Regions from separate parts of the Homo sapiens genome. Here all the other regions are reported to be linked to region 2. The links are microRNA targets in miRTarBase. Many come from high-throughput screens and were not tested one by one. Region 2 holds a microRNA gene; each other region holds the end of a gene's coding sequence.
What was found. The annotated mature microRNA hsa-miR-4514 reads ACAGGCAGGAUUGGGGAA and lies in region 2 at 1,499-1,516, opposite strand. An mRNA with a match to its seed (bases 2 to 7 or 8) in the 3' UTR can be bound and repressed. Matches are read on the target gene's strand: a 7mer-m8 pairs with bases 2 to 8, a 7mer-A1 pairs with bases 2 to 7 and ends in A, and an 8mer does both.

Region 1 (4,119 bases), not on the chromosome of region 2:
TGTTTCCAGAAATTCATTGTACAACACACGAACCCCTTCAATACCTGGATAGGTCTCACGGACAGTGATGGCTCTTGGAAATGGGTGGATGGCACAGACTATAGGCACAACTACAAGTAAGTGGCCTCTTCCCTCATCTCCTTGTTAGATTTCTCTGGGGACAGCCCCCTGGCCTTTCACTCCAAGCTACCCTGACTCGTCCCTCAGGGACCAAATTCCCCAATCCTCTCCTCCCCAGACTCCAACCCCTCCAAAGCTGTGCTCTTCTGGGCTGGGGGTGAGGGTTGCTGGGACTGGGCATAGGAAACATCTTTCTCTGCGGTTGGGTTCTCCCCAGACTGGGTAGCAGGGCACACCCCAGCTCCACTCTCGGCCTTCAAGGAAAATGGTCATGAAGAGGAGGAGGATGGGTAAGTCGCTTTCTCACCACCGTGGCAGAGTCCGAGTTTTCTCTTGCCTCCTTAGGAACTGGGCTGTCACTCAGCCAGATAATTGGCACGGGCACGAGCTGGGTGGAAGTGAAGACTGTGTTGAAGTCCAGCCGGATGGCCGCTGGAACGATGACTTCTGCCTGCAGGTGTACCGCTGGGTGTGTGAGAAAAGGCGGAATGCCACCGGCGAGGTGGCCTGACCCCAGCACACCTCTGGCTAACCCATACCCCACACCTGCCCAGCTCTGGCTTCTCTGTTGAGGATTTTGAGGAAAGGAAGAAACACTGAGACAGGGGTATGGGGAAGAGCTGAGCAAAGAGAGAAAGGAGGTAGTTTAAGAGTCCCTGACCCTGGAGGACTGAGATCCCACCTCCTTCTGTAATTCATTGTAATTATTATAATCGTCAGCCTCTTCAATGGCGTAGGAAAGAAGAAACAAATGCTTGAATCTCTGTGTGGCCTGGTTATTGGGAACTGAGAAACAGCATGCAAAGAGGAGGGAGAGGGGAGGGCATGGAAGACGCAAGGCGCGCATCCTAGACAGCTGCTCCTTGGTCCCTAATCCCGAGGGACATTGGTCAGGGAAACGGGAAAGGGGCTTGGAGCAGACAGGCTTAGTGGCTGGCACTGGTGGGAAAGGGGTCGGCCGGGCTGTGGCTGGAGGGTCCGCCTGGCTCCCAGTGAGAGGTGACAGCGTGCTGGCAGTCCTCACAGCCCTCGCTCGCTCTCGGCGCCTCCTCTGCCTGGGCTCCCACTTTGGCGGCACTTGAGGAGCCCTTCATCCCGCCGCTGCACTGTGGGAGCCCCTTTCCGGGCTGGCCAAGGCCGGAGCCGGCTCCCTCAGCTTGCAGGGAGGTGTGGAGGGAGCGGCGCTTGCGGGCCAGCGCGATTTCCGGGTGGGCGTGGACTCGGCGGACCCCGCACTCGGAGTGGCCGGCCTGCCCCACCGGCCGCGGGCAGTGATGGGCTTAGCACCTGAGCCAGCAGCTGCTGTGCTCAATTTCTCGCCACGCCTTAGCTGCCTTCCCGCGGGGCAGGGCTTGGGACCCGCAGCCCGCCATGCCTGAGCCTCCCCGACCCCCGCTCCGTGGGCTCCTGTGCGGCCCGAGCCTCCCCGACCAGCGCCGCCCCCTGCTCCAGGGCGCGCTCAGTGCCATCGACCACCCAAGGGCTGAGGAGTGCGGGCGCAGGGCGCGGGACTGGCAGGCAGCTCCACCTGCGGCCCCAGTGCAGGATCCATGGGGTGAAGCCAGCGGGGCTCCTGAGTCTGGTGGGGACTTGAAGAACCTTTATGTCTAGCTAAGGGATTGTAAATGCACCAATTGGCACTCTGTATCTAGCTCAAGGTTTGTAAACACACCAATCAGCACCCTGTGTCTAGCTCAGGGTTTGTGAATGCACCAATTGACACTCTGTATCTAGCTACTCTGGTCGGGAAGTCGAGAACCTTTGTGCCTAGCTCAGGGATTGTAAACGCACCAATCAGGCCAGATAAGAGAATAAAAGCAGGCTGCCCCAGCCAGCAGCGGCAACCCACTCGGGTCCCCTGCCACACTGTGGAAGCTTTGTTCTTTCGCTCTTTGCAATAAATCTTGCTGCTGCTCACTCTTTGGGTCCACACTGCCTTAAGAGCTGTAACACTCACCACGAAGTTCCGCAGCTTCACTCCTGAGCCAGTGAGACCATGAACCTACCAGAAGGAAGAAACTCTGAAGACATCTGAACATCAGAAGGAACAAACTCCAGACACGCCGCCTTTAAGAACTGTAACACTCACCGCGAGGGTCCGCGGCTTCATTCTTGAAGTCAGTGAGACCAAGAACCCACCAATTCCGGACACACCAGGGCTCCCAAAGGAAACATCTTTCTCTGCGGTTGGGTTCTCCCCAGACCGGGTCGCAGGGCATACCCCAGCTCCACTCTCAGCCTTCAAGGAAAATGGTCACGACGAGGAGGAGGATGGGTAAGTCACTTTCTCACCACCGTGGCTCTGTCTTTTTGACCCCAAGCGGATCTAGACATATCTTCAACACAGGGTGTCACCAACAATCTCCACAGTGGGCAAACTTCCCGCTCCAAGAACATTCTGAAACTGACCTTAAAAAGACTATTCAGCGGTTATATTATTTATTTAAGTTGGAGTCTTGCTGTGTTGCCCAGGCTGGAGTGCAATGGTGCGGTCTTGGCTCACTGCAACCTCCACCTCCCGGGTTCAAGCGATTCTTCTGCCTCAGCCTCCCGAGTAGCTGGGATTACAGGCATGCGCCACCACACCCAGCTAATTTTTGTATTTTTAGTAGAAACAGCGTTTCGCCATGTTGGCCAGGCTGATCTTGAACTCCTGACCTCGGGTGATCCGCCCGCCTCTGCCTTCCAAAGTGCTGGGATTATAGGCATGAGCCACGGGGCCCGGCCCCATATTTTTAAATTTTTAAAGTACAGAAGTAATACATTCTATTAGTAAAAAAATGTTTTAAATGACACACACACACGCACGCACACGAGTGTCCTCTCAGTCCTCCTCCGTCTCCCCAGAGTCAACTCTTTCCTGTGTCCCCTGCCAGAGCCCTTCCTGTGTACATGAGTAGATGCAATATTATGTCATTACATAGTGCCTGTTCCGCTTCACAGTGTCTCGTGGACACCAGTCTAATCTATGCCATTACCTGGCAGGTTTTACCTCCTTGGATTTAGCAGCTGTAGAGAATTCCAAAGTAGGGATGTACCATGCATTATGTAATCATTCTCTGTAGGGGGCAAGTAGTTACCACTTTTGTTTCTTTGTTTTCACATAGAATGTTTCAAAGTAATTTTTTTGCTCATAAGCTTGGGATAGGTCAAGACTTCCCACTTTTCAGTTGAAAAATTTTCTAGGATTGCCCCTTCAAAATGTACACGATTGGGATTAAATTTAAAAAACCGTGAAAATAGGCTGGGTGCAATGGCTCATGCCTATAATCTTAGCATTTTGAGAGGCTGAGGTGGTGGGTCGCCTGAGCTCAGGAGTTTGAGACTAGCCTGGGCAATATGGCGAAACCCAGTCTGTACAACATGCACACACACACACACACACCCCAGCTGGATGTGGTGGTGCATCCCTGCAGTCCCAGCTACTTGGGAGGCTGAGATGAGGGGATAGTTTGAGCCCAGGAAATTGAAGCTGCAGTGAGCTGTGACTGTGTCACTACACTGCAGCCTGGGTAAGACAGCGAGATCTTTTCTCAAAAAATAAATTATGGAAGTAATAATACACTCTAAAGTTTTATAGGACTAGAATTTTTATAGAAAAGTAGAAATTTTATAAAGTCTATAAAACTAGAAGTATAAAGTCTATAAAACTAGAAGTTTTACAGGGCTCTAGGTTACTTGACCTGCCCCCTTTAGCTCCTCTTGCTGCCTGGAGAAACTGCTTTCAGTGATTCTAGCTGTTTCTTCTAGTACTGACATCTGCAGTTCTAAGTAAGACACACAAACTGATATTTCATCTTCGTATGAGTTGTAGACATTATTTAGTCGCTATCATGTAAACGAGGTAAAATCTTCCAATGTAGTCTACAATTTATATTTAAATACTACTTTAAAATTTGTATCAGTTGTATCTGTGTCAATATGGTTACTGCTGAGTCAACTACTATAATCTGATTACATTCCCTTTCTTGCACAACTCTCATTTCTTCTGAAAGTAGT
Region 2 (4,119 bases):
CTGCCAAGGTATAACTGGTCCAGCACACAGGGCTCCCTCACACACCCAGCTGCAGGTGAACAGAGAGAAAGCATGGAGGGAGGAAGGGAGGGTGGAAAGTGGGGCTGGGGAGGAAATGGGAGTGATGTGTGAGGTACTGCCCAGGTGTTCTTACTGGATGGGAACAAAATATGCCAGAGAGCAAGAGGACATGCCAGGTAAGGAGAGCGAGGTGTTAGACAGTGATCTTGCTCCCTGGTGAACCAGGGGCTGTTGTCATGCATCACCTATGACAATGAAGGAATCTGGGGAAAAGAAGGAGAGATATAAATTCCTCTCTTTTACAACAGATAGTGAAAGGGAAATAATGCATATGTATAAGAAAGATAGCCTGAGATGTAATTGGCCCATCTGTGTGCACAAAAGCAAAACAGAGGGACATTGCTCCAAAGGGAAAAATAATTAGGGCAGAGAATGCCTCTTACTGACCAACAGGTGGCACTACAGACCAAACACAGCATGGTTGTTGGTCTGTAAAGTGTGGGGTAGTGTGAAAGTTGGGTATCAAAACCCAGAGTGGCCAGACAGGCTCACACCTGTAATCTCAGCACTTTGGGAGGCTAAGGTGAGAGGACCACTTGAGGCCAAGGGTGTGAGACCAGTCTGGATATCAAAGTGAGACTGTGTCTCTGAGACTTTCTCGCTACTAAATAAATAAATAAATAAATTTTTGATAGAATGAAAAGATCCGGAGTGCTTACAATGGAATACCGTTCACCCATAAAAAAGAAGGGAAATTCCCATGTATGCTATAATATCAATGAATCTTAAAGACATTATGTTAAGGCTGGGCACGTGGCTCATGCCTGTAATCCCAGCACTTTGGGAGGCCAAGGCAGGCGCATCACGAGGTCAGGAGATCGAGACCATCCTGGCTAACACAGTGAAACCCCGTCTCTACTAAAAATACAAAAAAAAATTAGCTGCGTGTGGTGGTGGGTGCCTGCAGTCCCAGCTACTCGGGAGGCTGAGGCAGGAGAATGGCATGAACCCGAGAGGCGGAGCTTGCAGTGAGCCGAGATCGCGCCACTGTGCTCTAGCCTGGGAGACAGAGCCGGACCTCGTCTCAAAAAAAAAAAAAAAAAAAAAAAAGATATTATGTTAAGTGAAATAAGCCAGGCACAAAATAACAAATATTGTATGGTTCCACTAACATGAGGTACCTAGGGTAGTCAAATTCATAGAGAAAGTAGAATGGTGGTTGCCAGGGACTGGAGGAAGGGGGAGTGGGGAGCAGTTACTTAATGGGTATGGAGTTTCAGTTGGGCAAGATTAAACATTTCTGGAGATAGAGGATGGTGATGGTTGCACGATAATGTACTTAACAATGGGTAAGATGATATTATGCTATTTTACCACGATTTAAAACATAAAAACAAAACAGAATGCCCATAATGTTCTCTTATACCAAGTGGTGGATGCACCTTCTAAAACAGGCAAGAGACGAGGTAAAAGATGTTTCCCCAATCCTGCCTGTCTCAACCTGTCAGTTCCTCTTGTCCTGCCCAAATCCTCAGTTCTCTCTTTGCAACTTGTTCACTTACTTTTCATCAGATGCCTATTTCAGTGTAGGCCTTGAGCCAGTATTGAGAATGCATTCTCTAGGGGCCAGGCCATTTACCAGCTCCCTCTCATCCACTCCATTTACCTTCCCTCAGCCAATCCTCAGTCCACACATTTTCCGCTTTCTTCTCTCACTCAACATCCATTAAAAAAAAAAATACTTAGTCCATTTGAGCTGCTATAACAAAATACCTTAGACTGGGTAATTTATAACTAATAGAAATTTATTGCTCACAGCTCTAGAGCTGGGAAGTAGAAGATCAAGGCCCCAGCAGGGGCCCATTCCTCATAGATGATGCGTCCTCTATGTTGCTGCATCCTCCCATGATGAAAGGGCAAAAGAGGTGAACAACTCTCTCACACCTCTTTTATAAGGCCACTAACCCCATTCAAGAGGGCTCCACCTCATGACTTAACCATCTCCCAAAGGCTCACCTTGTAATACTGTGACACTGGTGATTAAGTTTTAACATATGAATTTGGGGGTCAGATCACAGCAAATACTTTTGATTTATATTTATTTTAATTTTGAGAGGGTTAGAAGGGGTAATAGGTGGAGTTTTCTAAAGAAAAAGCCATTGCTTGAGTGACTCTAAGGGCAGACACCAACAAGCCATCCTCTAATTAGACTAAAAATATGCAACAGCAACAGACAACCCTCAAATCTCTGTGACTTAACACACCAATAATTTACTTTGTGTTCACATTGCATGTCCACTACAGATCAAGAGGGTCTGCTCCACATGGTCACCTAAGCTTACAGAGGCTCCACCAACTAGAATGCAGTCTCCGTGGTAGTTATAGGAGGGCAAGAGAGTGGAGAATTACAGATTGGCTTTTCATTGTCTCAGCCTAGAAGTAACCTGCATAGCTTCCCCTTACATTTCATTGGTCAGACAGAACCACATGGCCCTGCCTACCTACAAATATTGTATCTGTGAAGCCTGATTATCTCTGCTATAGGTTTTTTACTCTGTGCTCTCACTGTGCCAATAGTGAAATTGTGGCTGTTTCTTGTGAATCTACTCCTATCCCTGGACTCTAAAGAGTGGGGGCCTCATATTACAAATTATGTAACTTTGGTGCCTAGCACAAGACTGGTGCCCAGTGATTGTGGAGTGATTGAACAATCGGACAAAGTAAAGGTGAACCTAAAGAAAGGTGGAGGCAGTGCCTGGGAGGATCAGTTTAGGAGCTTCCCTATCTGAAAAATGAAGCAGGGAAGGCCGAGAAAACAATGCTATCAGTTTTAAAAATGAAACCAAACCTCACTGAATAGAGTGGACAGTCTGTGTGTAACACAACTCATTGTCGGGGTGGGTTTCCATCAACAACAAAACAGACTGCATATGTAGAAGAAAGGGAAAATGGGACCCCCAGGGGCACTACGTGGCTTTGGAAAAAAAATCTGATCTTAGAGCAGCCTCAAGAATAAACTAGGCACAGAACAGTCTGACTTCCCTCTCATAAGTTTTATTTATTTATTTATTTATTTTTTTTTGAGACGGAGTCTCCCTCTGTCGCCCAGGCTGCAGTGCAGTGGCGCGATCTCCGCTCACTGCAAGCTCCGCCTCCCGGGTTCATGCCATTCTCCTGCCTCAGCCTCCCGAGTAGCTGGGACTACAGGCGCCCGCCACCATGCCCGGCTAATTTTTTGCATTTTTAGTAGAGACGGGGTTTCACTGTGTTAGCCAGGATGGTCTTGATCTCCTGACCTCGTGATGCGCCTGCCTTGGCCTCCCAAAGTGCTGGGATTACAGGTGTGAGCCATCGCTTTCGGCCCCCTCTCATAAGTTTTTGGAGCTTAAGAAGGACTAAGGTGCAATCCCTGGGTCACCATGGAAAAACCTTGACTTATCCAGCTGTTTTTTTTTTCTCTTGTAGAAGAAAAAAAGGAATTAACCCTACATAATTACTTCCTATTTCAAGTCAGTTTTATTGACCTCGGTTTGCAAACTAAGTGGGCTCATCCGGATTCTAAAGATATTTAAGGATACTTTCAGTTATAAGTAGGATGACTATCCATCCAGGTTTGAACCTGCTGTTCATGGTTAATTTATTAATAGCATGTCTCACAGTTCATTCTCAGAAATGCTTGGATATGGCCGATAAATTGAAACGTCATCCTAGTTAAAAGTAACGTTTTTAACTGGCTGGAGAAAGGTGACTTGGGGTTCTAGGAAGGGACAGAGGAACAAACATTCTGTTGGCTCAGCACGCCCAGCCTGTGTTGGGCTGGGCACCTTAGAGGACCTGTTTCAGGACTGCGTGACTGGCGTTTTGCTGGGAGTAGCCCAGGTGTTTTAACCACTTCCTGAAGAACAAGGTTCGGTAAAAAGAGGCTGGGGCGTAGGCGTGGGTTCCTGTCCCTGCCATATGCTGTCTTCCTGATCTTCGGAAGTCACTTCAAGCACCTGATCATCAGTTTCCTTATCTGTAAAACTGGAGTAGTAATGTTTCCCTCCAAACGCCGTCGTATTTAATTCATTTAACAGCAGCCACTATTATTCCATTATA
Region 3 (4,119 bases), not on the chromosome of region 2:
AGCTAGAATGTACCTGGTACGTGCTGACATGACCCTAACCCACAGACGATGTAACAGGTCTACCTTTTCTCAGAAAGGATTGTCTCACAACTTGTTCAACGAATTAGTTATGTCATGGTACATACATATAAGTGCGCAATTTTTGTAACATCTTTTATTTGTATACAATTATAAATTACAAACTTGTTTTATTAGGTTTTTTAAAATTTATTTTTCGTCAACTTAGTCCCTTTTATTTACCAGCAGTTTGCTCTGACAGAATAAATTACAAACTATTGTTTTGTTTAATCCCTTTAACCATCATGTCAGGCACACAGGTTGGAGAATATTAGCTCCCATTTTATGGACAGAGTGGAAACACTGTACCCATATTTAGTGTAAGACAGAGCTGGGATATAAGCCTTGGGCTTCCATAGTCACAACTGCTTTTTTGCATAACTTTGTAATACATCATTTTAAAGTAATCTGATTTCACAATGTTTTACAGTATAGGAGTAACATCTATAGCATCTCTTCTTGGCAGGTTACCTCTGGAGAGAACCAATCTAATTACCTCATACGCTGGCACTTTTTTTTTTTTTTTTTTTGAGACAGAGTTTTGCTTTTGTTGCCCAAGGTGGAGTGCAATGGTGTGATCTCGGCTCACTGCAACCTCTGCCTCCCTGGGTTCAAGCAATTCTCTTGCCTCAGCCTCCCAAGTAGCTGGGATTACAGGCATGCACCACCACATCCGGCTAATTTTGTATTTTCAGTAGGGACAGAATTTCTCCATGTTGGTCAGGCTGGTCTCGAACTCCTGACCTCAAGTGATCTGCCTGCCTCAGCCTCCTGAAGTGTTGAGATTACAGGTGTGAGCCACCGTGCCCAGCCTAAGCTGGCATGTTTTAAGGCAGTTACATCTCTAACTTGATTTACCAGCTATGCTTGAGGGTCCAAGGAGCCAAAATTGCAGCCAAACTGATCTTAAAGGACCAGGGAATAGAATGGTCAAGCATGTTTCCAAGTTTAACCTAGGCCTGGCACATCCTTGCCAATTGCTCAGATGGCAAGTGAGGGGCAACTAAGTGAAGAGAATAGCAGGAAGACCCACTTGGGGTGGACACTGATGAAAAACACAAGCAGTATCAGACTCACTGTTTTCAGGATTAAAATCCCCAGATGCCCTGTTATTGGTCTATGTCACTACCAGTAGGACAAAAGGCAATGCTTCTGAAGACTAGAATATGCAAGGAAAAAATTAAGGTGCCTGCCTGCCTGGGGCCTAACGAGCCAAACAGTGCTAATTTCATCCATGCCAAACAAAATTGTTCATTCCTTGCTGATTTGGGTTTTAAGGAACCATGCTGATCATCAGAGAAACCAGGCAATTCTATTCTGAAGCCCAGGGGAAGAAATGGTGGGGATTTCTGAGTTACAGATGGTGCAGGGGTTAACACTATCTGCCACTATGAAGGGAAAAATCTATCTTGGTAAACTTTGGTCTTCCATAGGACATGGAACCAGAGTAGCAAGATCAGGGCCTGCGTGACCGATCCTGATTGAGCAGGACTTCCTCACATAAGGTACACAAGAGCTGGGCGCAGTTGCTCATGCCTGTAATCCCAGCACTTTGGGAGGCCCAGGCTTGTGGATCACTTGAGGTCAGGAGTTTGAGACTAGCCTGGCCTACATGGTGAAACTCTGTCTCCATCTCTACTAAAAATACAAGAATTAGCTGGGTGTGGTGGTACATGCATGTAATCCCAGCTGATCAAGGGGCTGAGGCAGAATCACTTGAACCCAGGAGGTGGAGGCTGCAATGAGCTGAGATCATGCCACTGCGCTCCAGCCTGGGCAACAGGGTGAGACTGTCTCAAAGAGAAAAACAAAACCCATAAGATGCACAGGTATCTGAGAAGGGTCTAAACACCCTAGAACTGCAAGCAAAATTTTGAGTGTATACATGTTTTCCTGGCGAAGGGGTCCTCATTCTCAAATCCTGAGCTTTTAGGAAAAAGTACTAAGCCAGTTTCAGGTTACGATACAAAAGCCACCAGATACACTTAGAGCCAGTCAAGTTTGAGAATTCTCAAAGCCATCACTGAAAAGTTGGAACACATACTCACAGCAGAGACAAGTGAACATTTATTTTTATGCCTTTCTTCCTATGTGTATTTCAAGTCTTTTTCAAAACAAGGCCCCAGGACTCTCCAGATTCAATTATGTCCTTGGGCTTGGTCGACTGCTGCAGGAGTCTCAGGGAGCCTTCTACAAATGCTAGAGTGACTCATTTACCAACATTAAACCCTAGGATACATGCAACAAAGCAGGACTCCTTCCTCCATGGAATGTGCCGATTTCAGATGACACAGCACCCAATGCAGAAAACACTGGAATTTTTCCTTGGAACTCGACTGTGATGAGAGGTGCTTGACATGAACATATGCTACTGTCTTTTCTTTTTTTTTGAGACAGAGTTTCGCTTGTTGCCCAGGCTGGAGTGCAATGGCGTGATCTCAGCTCACTGCAACTTCCACCTCCCAGGTTCAAGCGATTCTCCTGCCTCAGCCTCCTGAGTAGCTGGGATTACAGGCACGTGCCACCATGCCCGGCTAATTTTTGTATTTTTAGTAGAGATGGCATTTCTCCATGTTGGTCAGGCTGGTCTCGAACTCCCAACCTCAGGTGATCTGCCCACCTCAGCCTCCCTAAGTGTTGGGATTACAGGCATGAGCCACCACGACCGGCCAGCTACTGTCTTTTCTTTGACCCTTTCCAGTTTCTGAAGATAAAGCAGGAAATAATCTTCTCTGAAGATACTTGATAAAAATTTCCAAAACAAAACACATGCTTCCACTTCACTGATAAAAAATTTACCGCAGTTTGGCACCTAAGAGTATGACAACAGCAATAAAAAGTAATTTCAAAGAGTTAAGATTTCTTCAGCAAAATAGATGATTCACATCTTCAAGTCCTTTTTGAAATCAGTTATTAATATTATTCTTTCCTCATTTCCATCTGAATGACTGCAGCAATAGTTTTTTTTTTTTTTTTTCCGAGATGGAGTCTCGCTCTGTCGCCCAGCTGGAGTGCACTGGTGCAATCTTGGCTCACTGCAATCTCTGCCTCCTGGGTTCAAGCGATTTTCCTGCCTTAGCCTCTCGAGTAGCTGGGACTACAGGCACGCGCCACCACACCCAGCTCATTTTTGTATTTTTAGTAGAGACAGGGTTTCACCATGTTGGCCAGGATGGTCTCAATCTCCTGACCTCATGGTCTGCCCGCCTTGGCCTCCCAAAGTGCTGGGATTACAGGCGTGAGCCACCGCGCCCGGCCAGCAATACAGTTTTTAGTTACTCGACATCTTTAAGCCTATAACTCTTAGGCTATGCATAGCCCCATGTCCTAATCAGGCATTCACTGATCCCAGCAGGTCTCCATCTATTTGTACCAGCCTCCTCTATTCCTCCCAATCTCAAGGTTACTCTTAAATACTAGTAAATGCAAAAAGAACTTGTAAAGTGGCAAGGCATGGCCTATCAAAAGTCAGCCCAAGGGCAGTTTTCAGCCCTGCCTCACCTGGGTCTAGTTCAGCTGACGGATGAGCTGATTGATGCGTTCACCCCGATAGCCAGGTGTGCCCATCTCCTTGAGGAAGCCCACTCTATTTTTGGTAGCATGACGGGCCACTGAGAGGTGGAAAGGGCACAAGAACCATGAGATCTCCTGGAAATGCTTCCCTGGGAAGGCAATTTCATGAATGAGGTCTTCCAAGCAAATGACGCCAAACTTCCCTAAGAAACACAAAAGCACAGATTCCTTTATTTAACATGTATCCAGCATATACTAAGCTGGCCACTCTGGCAGACTCTTGGGGCCCCAAGAAGAATACAACCTGAATCTCACATCAAAGCTTCAAAGACCCTGGCTTTCTGCCCCAGCTGATCCCTAAGCTGTAGCACTCACCCAGGTGCTCCTCAATCACTGTATTGTCTGTCAGAGGGATGGTCTTATTCTTGACCTTGGCTTGTCCACGTTTCAAAATGAGTTCTCGGACAGACTTCAGATTTGGAAATCTATGTAGGAAAATAAAGCACGGTTTTCACCAGCACCTGGCACACTACATACCAGTCCTGCAGC
Region 4 (4,114 bases), not on the chromosome of region 2:
TGTAATTTACAGAGTTGTTCTTTAAGATCATCAGAGAATAGCATTAATCTTTCTATTGCCATGGATTTGTATTCTCCACCCTTTGTCTATTTGTCTGTTCTAATGGCCAGCAAACCAAAGGAAGTTACAACAGTGAAAGTGAAAGCATTTATTGTAACCTTAACTGGAAATCTCTCAAGTTCTGGTGGTATTTGGAGTATAACTGCAAAGGTGTCTGATGGTACTGCATATCTAGATGTAGACTTTGTGGATGAAATACTTACTAGCTTGATAGGGTTCTCAGTACCAGAAATGAAACAGTCAAAAAAGGATCCTCTTCAATACCAAAAGTTCCTGGAAGGGTTGCAGAAATGTCAAAGAGATCTAATAGATTTGTGCTGTCTAATGACTATTTCATTTAATCCTTCCTTGTCTAAAGCAATGGTACTGGCATTACAAGATGTTAATATGGAACACCTTGAGAATCTAAAGAAGCGGTTAAATAAATAATTAAACTAAAATAGTATTAGGAACAATTAAAAACAACAAGGAAATATTTAGAATTTGTTCACAATTTTACTTATGATACTTTGTGTAAAAAGGAAAAATGAAATTTCATAGCTTATTTCAGTTTAATTTTAAAGTGTTTAATCATGTTTGTTATATGTGGAGCTTTTGAAAATAAGTTAATCTTTTTTTTTTTTTTTTTAATGTCAGGGTATTGCTCTGTTGCCCAGGCTAGAGTGCAGTGGCATGATCATAGGTTATTGCATCAACCTCTTGAGCTCAAGCGATCCTCCTGCCTTAGCCTCTTGAGTTGCTGGGACTATAGGCATGTACCACCATGCCCAGCTAATTTATAATTACTATTATTGTTTTGTAGGGACAGAGTTTTGCTATGTTGCCCAGATTGGTCTCAAACTCCTGGCCTCTCACTCCTGCCGTCATGGCCTCCAAAGTTTACTTTTTTTAAAAGTAACTGTTAGATGGAGGAATATGGTGACCCACTATTGTTGAGAAATTTGTTTTCCACTTGTCACGTCACATAAGATGATTGCTAAAATATTGTACTGGTGTTCGGTGGTGAGTCATATTTTTGAAAGTTAATAATTATAAATAGGTAATTTCCTTCTAATATGTTGGTACTGTCTATGGCCATACCACCCTGAACATGCCTGAGCTTGTCATAATATGTTGAGTACCCAAAAGATTTGTTTATATTGTTAATCTTAGGGAAAAAAAATTAAAATCCAGTAGATCAGAACATCAGGCTTTCAGATACAAATTGATTTACTGGTTTTTATTTTGCTGATTATAATATTTGGTATATTTAAGGTAATCTAGTTAACTAGATGCTATTTCATAGATTATATTGAATGATTTAAAACTTTATTTTCAAGGATAGTTTATTTTAAATGGCATATTGAAAACATCATTATTAAGATCCAGTAGGTAGGACATTTATTGGATTAAAATGAAGCATTTATCTATGTCTTTAGGTGTCATTGTTCCCTTTCTGAATTAGCTGTACATATAAGCCTTCCTTTGGTTTTAAGTACTGATTTTTTTTTAAAAAAAAGAGGGACTGTTTACCATTCTTCCACTGTGCTGTTATAAAGTTGTATTTGAAAGGTAATGTTGTTTTTATTAATCTTTTGTCTTAAAATAATTTAAAGTGCTTTGAATTTTAAAACATTAAACAAATCCTTAAATAACAAAATACATTGGTGTTTTATTTTATTGAAAATAATGTAACGAAATATCAGGAAGTAAGATAAATACATGTATGATGTATGATAATAGAAGTAGAAGAGAAAGATTTTAAAATATTTTCATTGTTGTATCAGGGTTCAAAGCACCAGGACACAGATATTGCTAATATATGCCCTAGTAATAATCTTGTCTATATACTTGCATAGCTTTTTAATAAGTGATCTGAATGGGATAGCTTTATCTTTCATTATCTTTTCATTAAATTTTCTCCTTCTATACTCTCATCTCTGTGAATGGGGCTTGAAAATTGGGATTAGAACTTCTTTTCATATTGTCATTAAAGACTGGCTATCGTACTTTTTATCAATCTATGCTACTATATTGGTTCTTGGTACATCCTGTTTCTAGTCTTCTCTGGCCTGGATTACTGCAGTGGTTTACTAATTGGTCTTTTATCTTATTTTGCCCTCAAACCGTACTCCATAATGTTAGCAGAGTGATCTTTCGAAAATAAGTTTCTTCTTGTTTTCTCTTCATTAACCTTTAATACCAACCTCCTCCCACCCCATTACTTATAGGGTGAAGTCCAAACTCCTCATTGAGTAAGTAAGGACTTTCGTGATCTGGCCCCTGACTTCTTTTTTAGCCTTATCTTGCCCCATTACTCTTTGCCTCTGAGTTTTAGGGGTACCAAGTTATTTGTAGTGCACTAAACATGTGGAAGAATATACCTCTTACTTTCATACTCATGCTTATAGTGCCTGATCCCCCTACCTTCCTAAATCATTTCCAATTCAGTTTAAGCTTTAGGTGCCTGTTACAGTGTTTCATGAATTCCCCTGCCCACTTGCATGCTCTCCTGTACGTTGTACAGACTAATATTATGTGTGTTTTTACTGTGCTTGTTTCTCTGTTATTCTGCTGCTACGTTTTTGGTAGGATAAGTCTTATGGGGCTGTCCTGTGTGCATTGTAGGATATTTAGCAACATCTTTGGCCTCTGCCCACTGGATGTGAGCAGCATCCTTCCAGCTGTGACAACCAAAAATCTCTCCAGGCATTGCCAGATAGTCACTGGAGCTGGAGATGCCCCCAGTTGAGAACCATTGTTCTGTTGGAATATAAGCTGCTTGACAGTATGGTTGAGGGGTTTACCTTGTAGCTCCAGTAATATTTCATCAAATCTGATCATCTTCTGTTGCCTAATATCTTTTGTGATTTCCCGTCATCCATTCCAATAGCATGGTACTTAAAGCCCTGACATCTATGCATACACAGCATCTCAAAGAGCTGCTCTCTTTAGTGAAAGAATAGATTAGGGCCGGGCGTGGTGGCTCAAGCCTGTAATCCCAGCACTTTGGGAGGCTGAGGCAGGCGGATCACAAGGTCAGGAGATCAAGACCATCCTGGCCAACATGATGAAACCCTGTCTCTACTAAAAATACAAAAAAATTAGCTCAGCATGGCGGTGCGCACCGTAGTCCCAGCTACTCGGGAGGCTGAGGCAGGAGAATTGCTTGAACCTGGGAGGCGGAGACTGCAGTGAGCCAAGATCGTGCCACTGCACTCCAGCCTGGCGACAGTGAGACTCCATCTCAAAAAAAAAAGAATAGATTAGAAAAATCTGGCCTATAGTAAAGAGTGACTGAGAAAACTTGGATGACTTGGTTTAGATTCTGGTTGGGTGGGGGAAAATGTGTTCTTTTCCCTGAGAATTTGTAGCCATAGGTCTGTGCTTATGTGGGGCTAACCAGACACTTAAAAGTTACCTGCACGGTAATCTCCGGCCTAATAATTTAACACAAAAAAGAACGATCCTAAGAGTTCCTGGGAGAAGCAAATGGGAAGAAAAAAATAAGCATAATCAGATGAGCTTTCTCTTTCTCTTGGGAGTGACTCTGCTTTCAGAGTACAGTAGCCCTTTGATATCCATGAGGGACTGGTTTCGAACCTTCCACGGATACCAACATCCAGATGCTCAAGTTTCTGATATAAAATGGCACAGTATTTGCATATAACCTATGCACATACTCCCATATACTTTAAATAATTTAATTTCTAGGTTACTTATAATTCTTTTTTTTTGTTTGAGACAGGGTCTTGTTCTGTCACCCTGGCTAGAGTGCAGTGACACAATTACAGCTTACTTCGGCCTTGACCTCCTGGGTTCAAGTGATCCTCTTGTGTCAGCCTGCCGAGTAGCTGGGACCACAGGTGTATGCCACCACGCCCAGCTAATTAAACTTTTTTTGTAGAGATAGTGTCTCACCATGTTGGCCAGGCTGGTCTCCAACTCCTGTCCTCAAGCAATTGTCCTGCCTCTGCCTCCTAAAGTGCTTAATACAATGTAACTGCTATGTAAATAGTTGTTATATTGTATTGTTTAGAGAATAATGACAAGGAAAAAATGTCTGTACATGTTA
Region 5 (4,112 bases), not on the chromosome of region 2:
TGTATTTCTGCTTGAAGCGGTTCCTTCAAACCTTGTAAATTTTTTCCTAGTCCCATACTAGGGACATACCCCATTTCATGCATCATATGTTGACTTTGAGGGCTATATAATTGTTCTGGAATTAGAACTTGTGCTCCGCATTGTTGTAATAAATATCTTCCCCATAAATTTATAGGTACAGAAGTTTTGGTTGAATAGTCCCAGGTTGTCCATCAGGCCCTTCACAATGCAAAATATAACTACTTTGATATACTTCAGGGGCTTTACCAACTCCAACTATGTTAAACTGAGCAGGTTGAATTGGCCATGTGGACGGCCATTGCTATAGAGAAATGAAATGTCCGCTCCTGTATCTACCAAACCTTTATATTTCTTTCCCTGAATAGTTATTTCACAGGTAGGACGTTTATCAGTAATTTGATTCACCCAATAAGCTGTTTTGCCTTGTTTATTTGTGCTTCCAAATCCTCCTGTTCGTTTAATTTCACTTTTTCCCATTCCCACATATGGCACATTCAGGAGCTGTGCTATGCGCTCTCCTGGCTCTGCTTTCCAGGGAACAGAAGTAGAAAAAACAATTTGAATTTCTCCATTGTAATCTGAATCAGTGACTCCTGTTTGTACTTGTACCCCCTTTAAATTTAAACTACACCTCCCTAGAAGTAATCCTATTGTCCCCACTGGCAAGGGTCCACAGACCCCTGTTGGAACTTTTTGCGGGGGTTCCTCAGGCAGAAGGCTCACAGCTTTTGTGCAGCATAAATCTACTGTGGCATTACTGGCTGTGGCAGGGGACAGACATTGTACAGGGGTGAAGGAGTGGCCTGAGGCGGAAATGCCCCTGGTTTCGAACAGGGCCCGGGATGGGCCCCTCATGGCATTTCCCGAAATCGGGTTCCCATCTTTATCAAACTTAGAGTGACACTGATTAGCCCAATGTTTTCCTTTTTTTACATTTTGGACATATATCAGGCTCAGCAGTTTTCTTTTTTCCCCTGTCTGCCGGCCTGACTTGCTGATTTTTTTCTGCATTCTTTTTTAGTGTGCCCATGCTTCCCACAGTTGAAACAAGCTCCAGGAAATGGAGTATTTCCTTTATCCACTTTCAGTCCTGCCATTGCCTGTGCCAACAAAGTAGCTTTATGCAGATTACCTCTGATACCATCTCAGGCCTTGATATAATCAACTAAATGTGCTTTCCCTCTAATAGGTCACAGAGCAGCCTGGCAATTGAGATTAGCATTGTCAAAAGCTAATAACCGCAACACTATATCCTGAGCAGCCGAATCTGCAATCACCTTTTTAAGATACTCCTGTAACCGAGCTATAAAATCTGTGTACGGTTCTTTTGGTCCCTGTTTTACAGCACCAAAGGAAGGGTACTGTTCTCCACCTGAAGTGATTTTTTCCCAAGCTCTGATGCACACTCCTCTAAGCTGCTCTATGGCATCATCCTGCATGACCACCTGTGCATCTAAACCAGCCCAGCCGCCGACCCCCAAAAGTTGGTGTGCAGTTATATCAATTTGAGGTTGGGCCTGGGTGTTGCGAGGAGCCTGAATGGAAGCTTCATCTGCCCACCAAGTTTTAAATTGTAAGAACTGAGCAGGAGTTAGACAAGCTCAAGTAAGAGCGTCCCAGTCAGGAGGAATCATCCGACTGGAAACAGCAACATTCTTTAACAGTCCCGTTACAAAAGGAGAACCTGGTCCATATTGATTAATAGCTTGTTTAAATTCTTTGAGTAATTTAAAAGGAAAAGGCTCAAATGTAGCTGTAATATTTCCCTGTTGATCTGGGGGATGTATTCTAACAGGGAACTGCCAAGCCTCTAAATCACCCTCTCTTCTAGCTTGCTGAATTCCTGCCTGAATGGAACTGAGAGCAGTCGCTTGAGGCACTGCCCAAACAGTCACTGGGGCAACTACTTTTCACCCAGTGTCCTCTGGAAAAGAAAGATCTGGAGGGTCAGGTCACTCTTTTTCTTCACACTAAGGAGGGGATGCAGAAGGGTAGGGATGAACCTCTTCCTCCTTTGCCACTTTAGCTTTAGCTGGCAAACAAACCTGCTCTGTTACCTCTTCCATTACTTCATTACACTCTCCCTGCTCCTCATCAGTGTGAAAAGGTTCCAAGGTGGAATGAACCAGAACCCACACCTGTCCCATTGCTACCCTGATGCTTCCGAGCTCCCCTTCTTACTCACCATGGGGATTGCTTAAGAGTACTCGGGTGTCCTCCAGCTTAGTTCCACGTTCTCCAACCGTCGCTCCAGTGACTCTTCGACCTGGGTTCGAGCCCCCACGTATGGGTGCCACTTGCCGAGACCAGCTCGGTTGTGGAGACCCTAACCCAGCGGTGCTAGAGGAATTAAAGACACATACACAGAAATATAGGGTGTGGAGTGGGAAATCAGGGGTCTCACGGCCTTCAGAGCTGAGAGCCTTGAACAGAGATTTACCCACATATTTATTGACAGCAAGCCAGTGATAAGCATTATTTCTATAGATTATAGATTAACTAAAAACATTTCTTACAGGAAATAAAGGGATGGGCTGAAATAAAGGGATGGGTCTGGCTAGTTATCTGCAGCAGGAACATGTCGTTAAGGCACAGATCACTTATGCTATGGTTTGTGGTTCAGGAACCCCTTTAAGCGGTTTTCCGCCCTGGGTGGGCCAGGTGTTCCTCGCCCTCGTTCCAGTAAACCCACAACCTTCAGGGTGGGGGTCATGGCCATCACAAACATGTCACAGTGCTGCAGATATTTTGTTTATGGCCAGTTTTGGGGCCAGTTTATGGCCAGATTTGGGGGCCTGTTCCCAACACCAGAGATTTCCCCAAACAGCAGATGACTTTGTTAGTCTCAAGGACAGACTGCCTCAGCGGACCTCTGCTCCCTGCCCACGATCATTACCCCCAAAACATGCCGGCAAGTCTCTGCTCCCTGCGTCGGCAGAGGGATTTATAAGCCCTCTCTTATAAATCCTGGTTTAGCCTTTGTTTTGTGACTGAGTCCACCGAGATCCTTGCAGGAGAAGAAAATTTGCAGGCAAATGAACTAAATGTCTCTTCCTGACACTCCCCTTCTGGGGGGCTGAGGAAGCTGTGAACAGCCTGGTTTGTCACACAGCATGATGGCCACCACACTGAAGCAGCAGCAAGCAGATTCATGGAAGGTGTGCTGAGAACCAGCCACCTGGGAGCCCTACTGTCCCTGGGTATCCTCTGGCTTCTGGCTGCAAAGCTGGTCTTTTTTTTTTTTTTTTTCATTGATATAGGGTCTTGCTTTCTCACCCAGGCTGGAGTGGTGGTGAAATCACGGCTCACTGCAGCCTCAACCTCCTGGTCTCAGGCAATCCTCCCACCCAAGCCTCCTGAGTAGCTGGGACTACAGGCGGCACCACCATGCCTGGCTAATTTTTTAAAAATTATTTGTGGAGACGGTTTCACTATGTTGCCCAGGCTGGTCTTGAACTCCCGAGCTCCAGTGATCCTCCCACCTCGGCCTCCTGAAGTGCTGGGATTCCACAGGTGTGAGCCACTGCACCTGGCTGCAAGGCTGGTCTTGACTGACAACGTCAGGCAGTAGTCCAGTCGCTAGGACAGACGGATCCTGACCCTCACACTGGAGTGGGTCACAAGGGCGCCATAGTGCCCCACCCAGGAACTCACGTCTCTCCCGTACTGCTCAAAAGATACGTAGCGGATGCCCTTGCCAAAGTTGGTGAAGACGTGGGAGACCTGCAGGGGGAAGGGGAGTGAGAGGGTGAGGGCCTGCGGGCCCCTTCTCTTCCTCCACTTCAACAGATAGGCCCAAAGGACTGAGGAGGTGCCAGTCCTGCGCTAGTTTGCTGGGGACGGAGCAGTGAATAAAACCGGAAAAGGACCCCGCCCTGGTGTCAGTGCCATTCTAGCAGGGGGCCCAGACACTGGAGATAGGTGGGGGTGAGGGGCCAGGGGCATTCTGCCAGGAAGGTGGCAGGAATGTGAGTAGAGTGAGTTAGCAAAGGCCCCACAGAGGTGACACCTGAAGGAGGAGAGGGAGCCGGGAGGGGCTCTGGAGGGTGTCCCAGGCAGCAGGAACGGCCCGCGCAAAGGCCCTGAGGTGG

Region 1: the mRNA of ASGR2 is a reported target of hsa-miR-4514. The part of its 3' UTR that is shown has no 7-base or 8-base seed match.
Region 3: the mRNA of RPL7L1 is a reported target of hsa-miR-4514. Seed matches in the 3' UTR shown: 7mer-A1 at 3,389-3,395 and 7mer-A1 at 306-312.
Region 4: miRTarBase lists RMI1 as a target of hsa-miR-4514. Seed matches in the 3' UTR shown: 7mer-A1 at 1,152-1,158.
Region 5: miRTarBase lists FBXO17 as a target of hsa-miR-4514. Seed matches in the 3' UTR shown: 8mer at 3,582-3,589 and 7mer-A1 at 3,352-3,358.

What each region holds. Positions count from the first base shown.
Region 1 is chr17:7,098,087-7,102,205 of GRCh38, reverse strand. It overlaps ASGR2 (asialoglycoprotein receptor 2), which reads left to right. Exons shown (of 9, transcript NM_001201352.2): 8 at 10-116; 9 at 466-880. The coding sequence ends at 631. Among named protein-coding and RNA genes, the nearest start is that of ASGR2, 15 kb to the left of the region's middle.
Region 2 is chr15:80,995,952-81,000,070 of GRCh38, forward strand. MIR4514 (microRNA 4514) reads right to left here and starts at 1,522; the gene lies at 1,466-1,522. RefSeq lists an enhancer at 1,605-2,106.
Region 3 is chr6:42,885,910-42,890,028 of GRCh38, reverse strand. It overlaps RPL7L1 (ribosomal protein L7 like 1), which reads right to left. Exons shown (of 6, transcript NM_001366481.3): 5 at 3,946-4,055; 6 at 129-3,773. The coding sequence ends at 3,565. Among named protein-coding and RNA genes, the nearest start is that of PEX39, 2.9 kb to the left of the region's middle.
Region 4 is chr9:84,002,376-84,006,489 of GRCh38, forward strand. RMI1 (RecQ mediated genome instability 1) reads left to right here. Exons shown (of 3, transcript NM_001358291.2): 3 at 1-1,699. The coding sequence ends at 489. Among named protein-coding and RNA genes, the nearest start is that of RMI1, 24 kb to the left of the region's middle.
Region 5 is chr19:38,939,008-38,943,119 of GRCh38, forward strand. It overlaps FBXO17 (F-box protein 17), which reads right to left. Exons shown (of 6, transcript NM_024907.7): 6 at 2,394-3,744. The coding sequence ends at 3,601. LOC124904713 (a long non-coding RNA gene) reads right to left here and starts at 2,391. Exons shown (of 2, transcript XR_007067253.1): 1 at 2,207-2,391.